2 linked regions of the Homo sapiens genome follow. The protein of the gene in region 2 interacts with the protein of the main gene of each other region in a biochemical or structural test. Each region holds a gene or a part of one and is shown on either strand. Other genes may lie near its edges.

The links.
Region 1: of the proteins of DCN (region 2) and BMP1, one has a biochemical effect on the other in vitro, tested with the Homo sapiens proteins (one study listed by IntAct).

Annotation. Positions count from the first base shown.
Region 1 is NC_000008.11:22,168,359-22,175,390, forward strand, and holds part of BMP1 (bone morphogenetic protein 1 isoform 3 precursor), read left to right. Parts: intron 1-5,243; coding exon 5,244-5,357; intron 5,358-7,032. UniProt on the Homo sapiens protein: Metalloprotease that plays key roles in regulating the formation of the extracellular matrix (ECM) via processing of various precursor proteins into mature functional enzymes or structural proteins.
Region 2 is NC_000012.12:91,139,984-91,144,849, forward strand, and holds the end of DCN (decorin isoform a preproprotein), read right to left. Parts: 3' UTR 501-4,866; downstream 1-500. UniProt on the Homo sapiens protein: May affect the rate of fibrils formation.

The DNA.
Region 1 (7,032 bases), on a different chromosome or scaffold from region 2:
TTTGGCTGCCCCAGGTGACTAGCCAACACCCCCCCGGAGAGACCTTGGAGGCAGGAATTGGGACACAGTTGATCCCAAAATCAGAGAAGCCCAGGGGCCTGACCCCACAGGGGTGGGGCTAGAAGCATGTCACACCCAGAGCTGGGTAGTGACCCTGTGCCAGTGAGGCCCCTGCTACCACCTCAACCTCATCTGACAGCCCAGAGTCTGCAGGAGCGGGAGGGGCAGCACTTACCAGCCCACATCCCCATCCCACCCAGGGGGACGCCTGGCCAAGGTTTGGACATCAGAGAGCCATAGAGGATTAGGGTACACCCTCTGAGGTCGAGAAGTAATCTCTCCTCTCACCAGACCACATTCCCCCTCTAGACAGCTGAGTCACCCCACCCACCCAGGCCCCTGCCCCTGAGTCACCTTCTTATTTCAGTGCCGCAAGGGGTGAGGAAAAAATTTGTACTCTCCCTGGGCCCTACATGGGGCAGGGCGGGGCAGTGGGGTTCCCCAGGAAGAAGGGATTCTTAAGAAGTCTAGGCAGGGGGCAGTGGCTCATGCCTGTAATCCACTTTGGGAGGCTAAAGTGGGAGGATCACTTGAAGCCAGGAGTTTAAGACTAGCCTGGGCAACACAGCAAGATGCCCATCTCTACAAAAAAATTTAAAAATTAGCTGGGCATGGTGTCATGCACCCGTAGTCCCAGCTACTTGGGAGGCTTAGCTGGGAGGAGTTGGAGCTCGAGAGTTCAAGGCTGAGTCCAGGAGCTGGAGGCTGTAGTGAGCTATGATTGTGCCGCTGCACTCTAGTCTGGGTGACAAAGCAAGACTCTGTGAAAAAAAAAAAAAAAAAAATCTAGTTTCTCCAGAGATCTGGGGAGAAGATATTGCGGTCGGGGGAGTAGAAGCGCTACTCCTCAGTCCACTAAGAACCTCCTAAGGAGATCCAAGGGAGTCAGCTAATCTCTCTCTCTCCCTCCCTCGCTCTCTTTGTCTCACACAAGTGCATCCCTGTCCATTTCTAAGTGCGCCCTTGTCCTTTGGGGAGTGTGGCCTGTGAAACATGGTGCATGCCTGCAGTTATGTGTGTGTTTGAAAACACAAGATCCTGCACGGGGAAGTGGTTGAGTGTGTGTTTGTGCATATGCGTGGGTGTGTCGCTGCCTTGTAGGCAAGCATGTTCACCTGTGATCGGTCTTCCTGAGTACATGCAGGCATGGAGGCAAACATGCACCTCTGCAGAAGTGTTCACATGTGATGAAGTCCATCCACATGTTTGCAGGGGTTTGAGTGTGTCATCCCCCAGCTAGAAGCTTGCGTTTGTGCAGTGGGACATGCATCAGTCCTGCACATATAGCCTTGGGGCTCATTACACCAGCCAGCCTCCTCTCCCCACTTCCCCAGAAGGGGAGGCCTTGCCATGCCCTGGGGGAGGAGACGGTGGAGTCCAGAGGTTGACCTGAAAGAGTGAGATTCTTCCCAGGCACAAGCACACAGATGGGCTCAGCCACAGTGCTCCTGGCAGGTTTACAGCTGGAAAACAACACAAAAAATTTTTATCTTGTGTTGAAAATAACTACTACCCTGACCGTGACCCCAGGGCTTCCTCTGAGTAAGGAGAGACCTCCTAGACTCCTTAGCATCCAGATTCCCTCGCTTCCCCAGAGGGCAGCCCAAAAGCACAGAGCCCCAAGGCCCAGCTCCTGCCCCTAAGGCTCTCCTGCCCATCTCCTCTCTCCCCACCCCCACTTGGTTCCCACGCATTCTTCAGCCATGACATCCTCACTCCAGGAGCTCAGCAGCCAGGGCCATGCCCTGCCCTGCCTTGCACTTGCTCTGCCCTGGTTCTACACTGGCCCTGGACCCGCAGGCCAGCACAGTTCTGTGGCCTCTGCACCAGGGTTTCACTCAAGGAGGAGTGGGGGCAGAGAGTGTGGGTGAGCCAGCGTTCCCTGAGGAGGTCTAGAGCTGACTTTGAGCTTACGGGTTGTGTTGGGATAATATTAAAGTGGCTGGTGGGTGCGTACCGTGTTGCATGCTCTGTGCTGGGGGTTCGTGTATATGTCTTATTTCATGCAGTAATCCTAGGAGACAGATTCTGTTATGTAGGAGAACACTGAGGCTTAGAAGAGTTTACATGACTTGTCAGCTAATAGTAGCCAACCTGGATTCCAAGACAGGTCTGTCTGACTCCAAAGACCTTGCCCTTTGCTCTATGTCCAAAGGTGAGTCTAAATGTCCAGCCACACCTGTATGCGGTGATGCCTGTGGGTTTGGGTGTGGGAGCCTGCAGGTACAATGCCTGTGAAAGGTATAATATGTGTGTACGGGCACAGTAGCTTATGCCTGTAATCCCAGCACTTTGGGAGGCCAAGGCAGGAGGATCACCTGTGGTCAGGAGTTCAAGAACAGCCTGATCAACAAGGTGAAACCTCGTCTCTACTAAAAAAAAAATACAAAAATTAGCTGGGCGAGGCTGAGACAGGAGAATTGCTTGAACCCAGGAGGCAGAGGTTGCAGTGAGCTGAGATTGCACCACTGCACTCCAGCCTGGGTGACAGAGTGAGACTCCATTTCAAAAAAAAAAAGAAAGAAAGGTATAACACAAGCCTAAGTGTGGAGGCATTCGTGTGGCAGATGCACATCTACGTGAACTTTGGTGAGTATGAACCCACTGCTTCTTCCTTGGAGTGTACCTCCCATCCCATGTCCTTGTTAAGGCCACTCTTGCATGTCACCTGGGAAGCATCTTCTGTTGCCGTCCCATCAGTTGCTGAGCCAAGGCCACCTGCCGAGGATGGCGATTCAAGTAAGAGTAGCTTTCTCATGGGTTGGAAGAGATTTGGGGTCACTTACTGGCTGGTGACCTTGAGTGAGTTATCGCCCTTCATAGGCTCAAGTGTTCTGATGTCTAAAGTCAGGGAGGTGGGCTGGAACCTAAACCTAGCCACTTAGGTTATCTCTCTCTGAGAGTTTCTAATGCTCTGCAAGAGCATGGTGTGGAGTGTGGCTTACTGGGCATGTTGTGGGCAGGCCAGGATTAAATTAATTAATGGGAAAGCACTTTGCCAATTGGAAAGCACCACAAAAATTTCAACATTTACATAAGGTGTCATTATCACGACTATTATTTGCTTAATGGGTCCAGAGCTTGCAGCTGGTTTGTGTATGTTGGAGCTTGTGCATGTGTGTTTTTTAAAAACCGTGTGTGACTGTGTGTGTATTTTGTTGTGGATGTGTCCGTCTGAGTATCTATTTTTGTATATATGTATTTACAGTAGGGGTTCTAGAGAGTGCAGTGGTTGCTGCACTGGGAATGGGGAGGCCTGAGTTATACGTCCAGTTTTCCAGTGACTAGCAGTGTAGGTTCAGTTAAGTTGTTGCTTTTGGGACCTCAGTTTCCTCATCTATAAAATGGAAGTTTGGCCTCGATGACTGCCACAGTCACTCCCACATTCTGTTGATCCTGTCTAGGTGAGGGTGTGTCTCTGGGCATGTATTTGCAAGCCAGAAGAATATCAGCGTGGCAATTCATTCATTCGAACATCCCGGAGTGCCTCCCGCCTGAAAGTGCAGTGCTGGCTGCTGCTTTCATGCGCAAGGATGTGTGTCCCTGGCTTTGATGGCTCTGCACTGGATGGCAAGGGTGTGGACGCCACCATATGTCTGTAGGAACACTAACCTTGGGTGTCTGATTCTGTATGTGATGAAGTCAGTGTGTGTGTGTGTTCACCAGTGAGGCCAACTGGGGAGGAGAAACCTGTGTAGAAGTCTTCAAGGTTAAAACAATTTGTGTAACGCGACCGCCAGGCCTGTATAGCACTCTGCCTGGATGAGAAGCAGATGTTGCTGTGGGTGGAGCTGCAGGGAAGCTGCTGTGGGTCCCACCTGTAGCCCAGCCTCCCACTTCCCCCAGCCCAGCCCAGCTCAGCATGCAGCTCCCATCTGAGCGCCTTACAAAGCGGCCAGTTCTATGGCCTCTGCTTCCTTTTCTCCAGACTTCTCAAAAGGAAGACAGACAGTTCAGCCGGGTCTCTGGAAACATCCCTCCTCAGCTCCAGATACTGGAATCGGAATGGCCCTTTAGGGAGGCTCTCTTCCCCTCTGGCCTTTCTGCTTGGGCAGCCTAAGACTTGGAATAGGAATTACTTGAGAACTGTTAAACTTTTTCCTCCTAGCTGGGAAGCTCCCAGAAGGTATCTTCGTTTCCCAAAGATGCTTATCTGTTCTAATGAAAAATGGTACAATTTTATTTCCTCTTTTTTTTTTTTTTTTTTTTTTTGAGACAGGGTCTCACTCTGTTGCCCAGGCTGGATTGCAGTGGCATCATCTCAGCTCACTGCAGCCTTGACCTCCTGGGTTCAATTGATCCACCTGCCTCAGCCTCCTGAGTGAGTAGCTGGAACTACAGGCATGCATCACCATGTCTGGCTAATTTTTGTATTTTTTATAGAGACGGGGTTTCACCATGTTGCCCAGGCTGATCTTGAACTCCTGAGCTTAAGTGATCCACCCACCTCGACCTCCCAAAGTGTTGGGATTACAGGTGTGAGCCACTGCACCTGGCTTATTTTATCTCATAGACACCCCCTTAGTTAAATTGAAACAGCATTTGCTGAGTGACCACCACATGCTCAGCACACCCTGTTTTATTTTCTTCATAGCTCCCATTGCTATCTGGAAGACCCTAGGTCAGTATTTATTTACTTGCATATTATGGAAGGTTAGCTCCACCGAAGCAGGGGCCTCTTCTGTCTTGCTAATAACTAGGGTATTGTCTGGACCACAGTAGTATGTTAACTAAGTATTTGCTGAAGAATGATGGCTCTGTGGCTCACACCTGTATTCCCAGCCACTGGAGAGGCTGAGGAGGCTGGAGGATCACTTGAAGCCAGGATTTTGAGACCAGCCTGGGCAACATAGCAAGACCCTGCTAATTTTAAATAATTAGCTGGGCACAGTGGTGAGACCCTATCTGCCCCACACTCCCCAAAGAATGATGAGCTAACAGACTGGTAGGGGCTGAGCATCAGCTTTACTGGGATTTTAACTGAAAAGTAAGCATGAGCTTCCCAAGAAATTCTATAAGCTGATCCCTAACTGCCCTTCTCCTTCTCGTTCAGATGGCATTTGAGGATCACAGTCGCTGTGGAGGTTGGGGGCTGGTGCCCACAGGGTTGGGGCTAGAAGCACGGTGCACCTAGGGCTGGGTAGGAGGATTAACTCAGCCCTGGCTTCTTCTTTTCTCTTTAGCTGCCTTTCTTGGGGACATTGCCCTGGACGAAGAGGACCTGAGGGCCTTCCAGGTACAGCAGGCTGTGGATCTCAGACGGCACACAGCTCGTAAGTCCTCCATCAAAGCTGCAGGTAAGCCGGGTGCCAATGGGCCCTCTGTGTCCTAGAAATGGGTTCCAGGCTTAGGGAAACAAGGAATCTCCCTGTTCCCAGCCAGGCCCTCCCAGGACAGAGGCCATGAGTTTGACCCCAGCACATGGGTCTATCTTCCCTCGGGATATCTTCATCCCTTCCCCAGAGGAGTAGTAAATATAGATATCCCCAGCAACTAAGAACTGACATTCTTTTTGTTTACAGTTTAAAAACCACTTTCAAAAGTATTGTCTAGCCTGACTGTCCCCAACCACCTTTAAAGGTGGTGTCAGGACAACTCCTGTTTTACAAGTACAGAAACTAAGATTCACAGAGGTAAAGTGACCTGCCCAGGATCACACAACTAGTGAGTGGCAGAGCTGGGACTGGAACTCAAGCTTTCTCACTCCAGACCTGAGACTCTGCCCAACACTGCAATCCCTCCTGGGCTCTCTGTTCCCACTTTGCAAATTTCTGTGCATCCTCTGAGGCCCATTTCAGGAGCTTCTCCTATTCTTCTTTCCCAGTTGCCCCCGAAACATGACTGTCCCTTCATTTTCCCTGTTTTCTCCCTCCTCTGTGATCACACTGTTACCCTGTCATTTATCACACCATATTGAAAGGATTTGCTCCTATGTCTCCCTAGCTCTTTAAGGTCAGGGATGCTTTCTTCTTATCCTTGATTGTGGTCCAAACTCCTAAAAACCCATGTGGTACTTGTGCATGGATACAGGAATGGGAGGGATGAGGGCCTGGGCTGTGTCTGTTCTTTCCAGTCCCTTACTGCTCTGTAGAAGGGTGAAAGCTCCTCACTGCCAGTGCTGATGTTTGAGACATGGTCCTGAGAGCACACAAATAGCCCTCCCCTTCCCAAAGGGCAGGGGCAGGGATTCTTTCTTCTTTTTTTCTGTCTTTTTTTTTTTTTTTTTTTTTTTGAGACAGGGTCTCAGTCTGTTACCTAGGCTAGAATGCAGTGGCACCATTTCGGCTCACTGCAACCTCTACCTCCTGAGTTCAAGCAATTCTCGTGCCTCAGCCTCCCAAGTAGCTGGGACCACAGGCATGCAACACCACGCCTGGCCAATTTTTTATATTTTTAGTAGACACGGGATGTCACGGTGTTGGCCAGGCTGGTCTCGAACTCCTGGCCTCAAGCGAACTATCCTCCCTGGCCTCCCAAAGTGCTGGAATTACAGGCGTGAGCCACTGTACCAAAGGGCAGGGATTCTTATTGAGGGTCTGCTCTGGGAACACTGTGGTGTGCCTGAAGTTGTCCTGTCCAGCTTGAGGGAAGATCCTGATGTGGGCACCTTATGGAATAAAGTACCCCAGAGGGCAGGTGGCATTGGAGGGTGACCTGGTGGCCTGCTAACAAGTAAGGCTCATGTGACCTTAGTGGGGACTAGTAGGTATGGCACAACGGAAAGCTGCATGGAGGGGTCCCCTGCTAACCCACCAGGTGACTTTGGCCAAACCTTTGGCCTTAGTTTCCTCATCTGTCAAATACAATACGACACTTGTCCACATGCCTTAGAGCTCCTATGTCAAATGCAAACATGAATTTGGGAAATCAAAAGAAGGCATAGAGTTCTGAATGCTCCACAAATGTCAAGGTTTATTCAATGAGAAGGGATATTTTCCTAATCTCAGATCCCCACAATTCCTAGAAAATGAG
Region 2 (4,866 bases):
ACATATCTTTGTCAGACCAAGTGGCAATATGGGTGCTTTATAAAGTAGTCATCAATATAAACTTTTACAGAATTAGATGGAGTCATTTTATGCTGCAATTCCATGTAAAAATGGCCTTAGCTATAGAAGTTGTATGTGTTTTCATGATTTTCTAGTTAAACATGCTGGTATAGTGCCTGAGGCTCAATGAGACCTCCTGCAGTTTCAGGAATATGCTTTCTTTATGCTATAAGACTGTTTGTTTATAACTGTCAAACCACCAGCAAGTTATCAACTCACATTCAAAACAGGCACCAAGCCACACTTTTGTTAATGTGAATTCTTGAAGAAAACAGAAACTAGACTGTTTTTGTAAGTTTTAAACTCATAAGCCAAAACACAGGGATTTAAAAAAAAAAAAAAAAAAACAATGATTTCTTTCTCAAGAGGTTTTTTTCTTTCCTTGGTGGTGTTCAAGCAAGAACTGTTTTGGAAATGCTGACAGGATCATAGCAAAGGCATCCAGAGGGAAACATATAATATGTTTATTTATCTTAGAAACCACAGAACATTGCAAAAGGCCAAATTGGCCCTGTAAAATGTGTTGCTAACATGTACAGTATGATTGCTTAGTTTGGACAAAGTCAAGTCATTTCTGTGCTGATAAAGAAGGATCACAATCTATATTCCGGCATCTCTAGAATTTATGTCTACAGCTCAACCCTTTCCCTTGAGCTCCAAAATTCTAGATCTAAATCCTCCTTGACACCTCCATATGGAAGTTGAATATGCATCTCAAAAAGAACAGATTCAAAACCAGATATTTGATTCTCAGTTCTTCCAGCTCAACCTCCCAGTCATTACCATCTCAGTAAATGGTGACTTCATCCTTCCAGTGGCCCAGGCCAAAATTCCTGAAGTCATCTCTGTTTCTTTTCTTTCTCTCTCATGCCCCATCTGATCATTCAGCCATCCCTGGCCTCTCTACCATCAAAACAAACCCCATATTTTGATCCCTTCTCAACAATTTTTCTACTATTATCCAGGTCAAAGTCTTCATCATCTCTCACCTGATTATTGCACTAGCATCCGAAATATTCTCTCTTGGCCTATTCCTGTTACCTTACAGTCTATACACGCAAAGGGATCCTCTCAAAGACAGTTGAATCAAGTCACTCCTCTACCGAGACCCCTCTAATAGCTCTCTGTCTTACTCAGAGTAAAAGCTCATCTTTACAATGGCCTAAAAAGTCCTACAGGATGCGATTGTCATTACCTTTCTGACCTTGTATCATATATTATCTCTTCTTGCTCACTTTACTCTGCTCACGTTTGTCCTCTCTGCTCTTGTTGGAACGTGCCATGTATTTTCCAAATTCAGGGCCTCTTTTCTTGGCTTGCTCCCTTCAGTTCTTCATCTCCCTGCTCAAATGTCACTCCTGATAAGTCCTTTTTCCGACCATCCTATATAAAATAGCAAGTCTCACCCCCTTCACATCCCTTATTCCCCAGTTCTGCTTGACATTCCTCCACTTTAATTGTCATGTCCTGGAATGTCTCCTCCTGCTGCAACATCTGCTTCAGAGGGCAAGGCATTATGCACTGCTGTGTCTCTGCCACTAGAACACTGTCAAGCACACAGTAGGTTATTAATAAATATTGGCTGAAAAAATGAAGTAATATGTGCTAGTAGATATATCTGATCAAGACAAAAAAGTTGGATTATTTTGACATTTTTGAGTGTATTTTAAAATTGATTTGTGTTTCTATGCTTGTTCCTGATGGCCTGGAAGCATTCATTCAGCCCTCACAGTCACTGCAGAATGTGTGGCCTGGGAAGAGTCTCCTGATCTCCAATGCCTAAGTGATTGATGGCAGTCATAATACTCAGGAGGCAACTCACCCAGTCCTTTTCTGGTTATCTTATACTGGGGTAGGGTGTGCATATGCCCTTTCTTTTGGCTCAAAATTGTTCAACTTCTTTGAAGGTTGTTTTAGTTTCCTGAATGCGTATGCTTGTATATGGTTTTAATAAGTTTAGTGTTCTCCCTTTCTTGATTTTACTTTGTTTTCCACTATTATACTTTGTGGTGTGAAATTGACAGTCTGTCACAGACCTGTGATTTGAAATAATTGTGACAGATGGTGTGCTTGAATACATAAACAGATCCACTAGAAGGAATGTTTTAGCAATAAGTGTGGAAACTTAAAATTGAGCAGCAAAATCAAGAGTGAAATAACTGCAATGTCGACTCAGCAACCTCGAATGTCTGTGCTGCAGGAGAGTCTGAAGGACAGTGAAGTCTTGTGAAGAGTTGTTGTGTGTGTGAAGGGGCAGTCTTGGACTGGGACTGCCTGGAACATTGGATGAATGAGAAATGACTGTATAAAACATTTTTAGTTTACTTGAGGGATTAGGCAATTCTTCCTTCGTATAAAGATAAGATTATGATATCCTGCAGCTGCCTCTGCAATAAAATTGTGGAATAAACCAGTTTCTTGGAAAAGCATTATGGAGAACGGTAAAGGAATATAAAAAAGATAATAGTGATGATTCAGACAAATGAATGAGCAGAAGAAGAGGAGATCCAAGTTATGCCTAATTTATGTCATGAGAATTACATAGTAACATTTATTGCCAGATCAAAGTCTTTGAAGAAAAATGCTTTAAAAGATCATGAATACTGTGTTCTGGAAAATCTGTGTCACTTGAATAAACTAAGATGGCTGTACTGAAGACAGAAAGTGGTATGGCCTAGGCTAGCATAAATGTACAACAGAGGCCTTTCCAACCAGGAGGGGTCAGAGACAAATTTTTAAGTTTCCAACCTTTTATGTGAAGCACCCATAATCGAACAACAGTTTTAATGAAAACAAAAAAATTAAACATTTAATAAGGAAAAAAGAAAGTGGATATTAATGATTAAGTTGTGTCTCCTCCCAGAAGATATGTTCAATATCAAACCCCCAATACCTGTGAGTCTGACTTCATTTGGAAATAGAGTCTTTGCAGATATAATCAAGTTAAGATGGGTTCATACTAAATTAGGGTGAGCCTTAATCCAATATAACTCATGTTCATAGAAGAAGAAGAGAAAAGACACAAACACATGAGAGAGAAGGCCATGTGAGGGTGAAGATGGAGGCATAAATTAGAGTCACGCTGCCATAAGGCAAAGAACACCTAGATTTAACCAGAAACCTAGGAGGAGCAAGGAAAGGTCCTCTCCTAAAGGCTTTGGAAGGAATCTGACCCTGCTGACACCTTGATTTTGAATTTTTAGCCTCCAGAATTGTGAGAAAGTAAGTTTCTGTTGTTTTAAGCCACCCAGTTTTTGGTACTTTATTATAGCAGCTGTGAGTTCCTTACAGAGGCCAATAAGCAGGAGACAAAAGACAGACATGGTACAATAGGAAACGAGAGGACTCTCTGCTGACTTATTTCTCCAAGTGTGGACCAAGAAGCAGCAGCATTCCTGGAAGTTTGTTTGAAATGCAGAATCTCAGACCTCGATCCAGAACTGACACATAAGAATTTCCCTTGAAATGATTATAGCTCGAACTGTGTGCCTGTAATAACAATGGCAGTAGCAACACCATAGTTGAGCCCTTTCCATTTACTCTACTTTGATCTATAAGTTATATTCTACACTCGCTAACTGAATTCACACACCAATCCATAAGACATGTACAATTAATATTCCCATTTTATGGACAAGGAAATGAGTCACAGAAAGGTTAACTAGCTTCCCTTAGTCATGCAAATAGTAAGTGTCGAAGCCAAAGAAATCAGCTATATTTATCTTTATTTCAAAGGAAATAAAGATACATATATATGTATATATGCAAAAAGATATATATATAAATATATATATATAAAGATATATATGTGTGTATATATATAAAGATATATATGTGTGTGTATATATATAAATATGGGGGGAAGTTGTGTTGACAAGAGTGCTGGAGAATCAGGCCTGTTTCTCATTTTGATACTGAACAAAATTAGAAGTAGCTTGACTACTGGAAAAGTGTGTTGGATCTGCCTTGCAGATAAGTGTCCAAAATGGTCTTCCCCTCTTTAGATTTCTACTTATTTCTCACCACACTTGTCAGTTAAGCAGCAGGATATCTGCAGGCTTTTCCCCATAAGAGAAAGGCTGCAGCATAAAGGGTATATCATTCAAGGCTATAACATGGAGTGTGCATCATTGAAGGCTACAACATGAAGGGTGCGTCACTCAAGGCTACACCATAAAGGGTGAATCATTCAAGGTTACAATAAGAAGGGTGAATCGTTAAAGGCTATAGCATGAAGGGTGCATTATTCATGGTTACAACAGAGAGAAGGATGCATCATTCAAGGTCCAGCTCTGAACAACAACAAAAAAAGTCCATTTATGGACATGCACCTTGAATTCCTGAATGTCTTCCAATAGAAACCACCTATTCAACTGTAGTCATGAGAGGAGGATCTCTTGGGAGATGAAAAAGAGAAGAAAAAGAGAGGTTTCTTCCCTCTTATTAAAAATACTGGAAAATTCAGATTTTATGGTCCTGCAAGAATGTGGAAAGATGGAAAAGAGTAACTTTCCCTAATGTTAATATTACCTCGGGATATGTCAAATGTAAATGAAAATTATTGCTTCTGTTTCAGAAGAAGAAAAATAGTTTGATTAAGCCTCCTTTATGCCAACCTGTCAGAGGTGTGTCCCAGCATACGTCTTGGATTTTGAACTTAGTCCCTGTCTTGAATAGTGCCTCCCCACCAAATCTTGCTCTTGAACTATTATGCATCTATGGAAACCCACCTCAACTGTTATCTCCTCAAGTTTTTCATGTTCCACTGCACTCATTCTGCTACTATTAGCAGAATTGATTACCTCT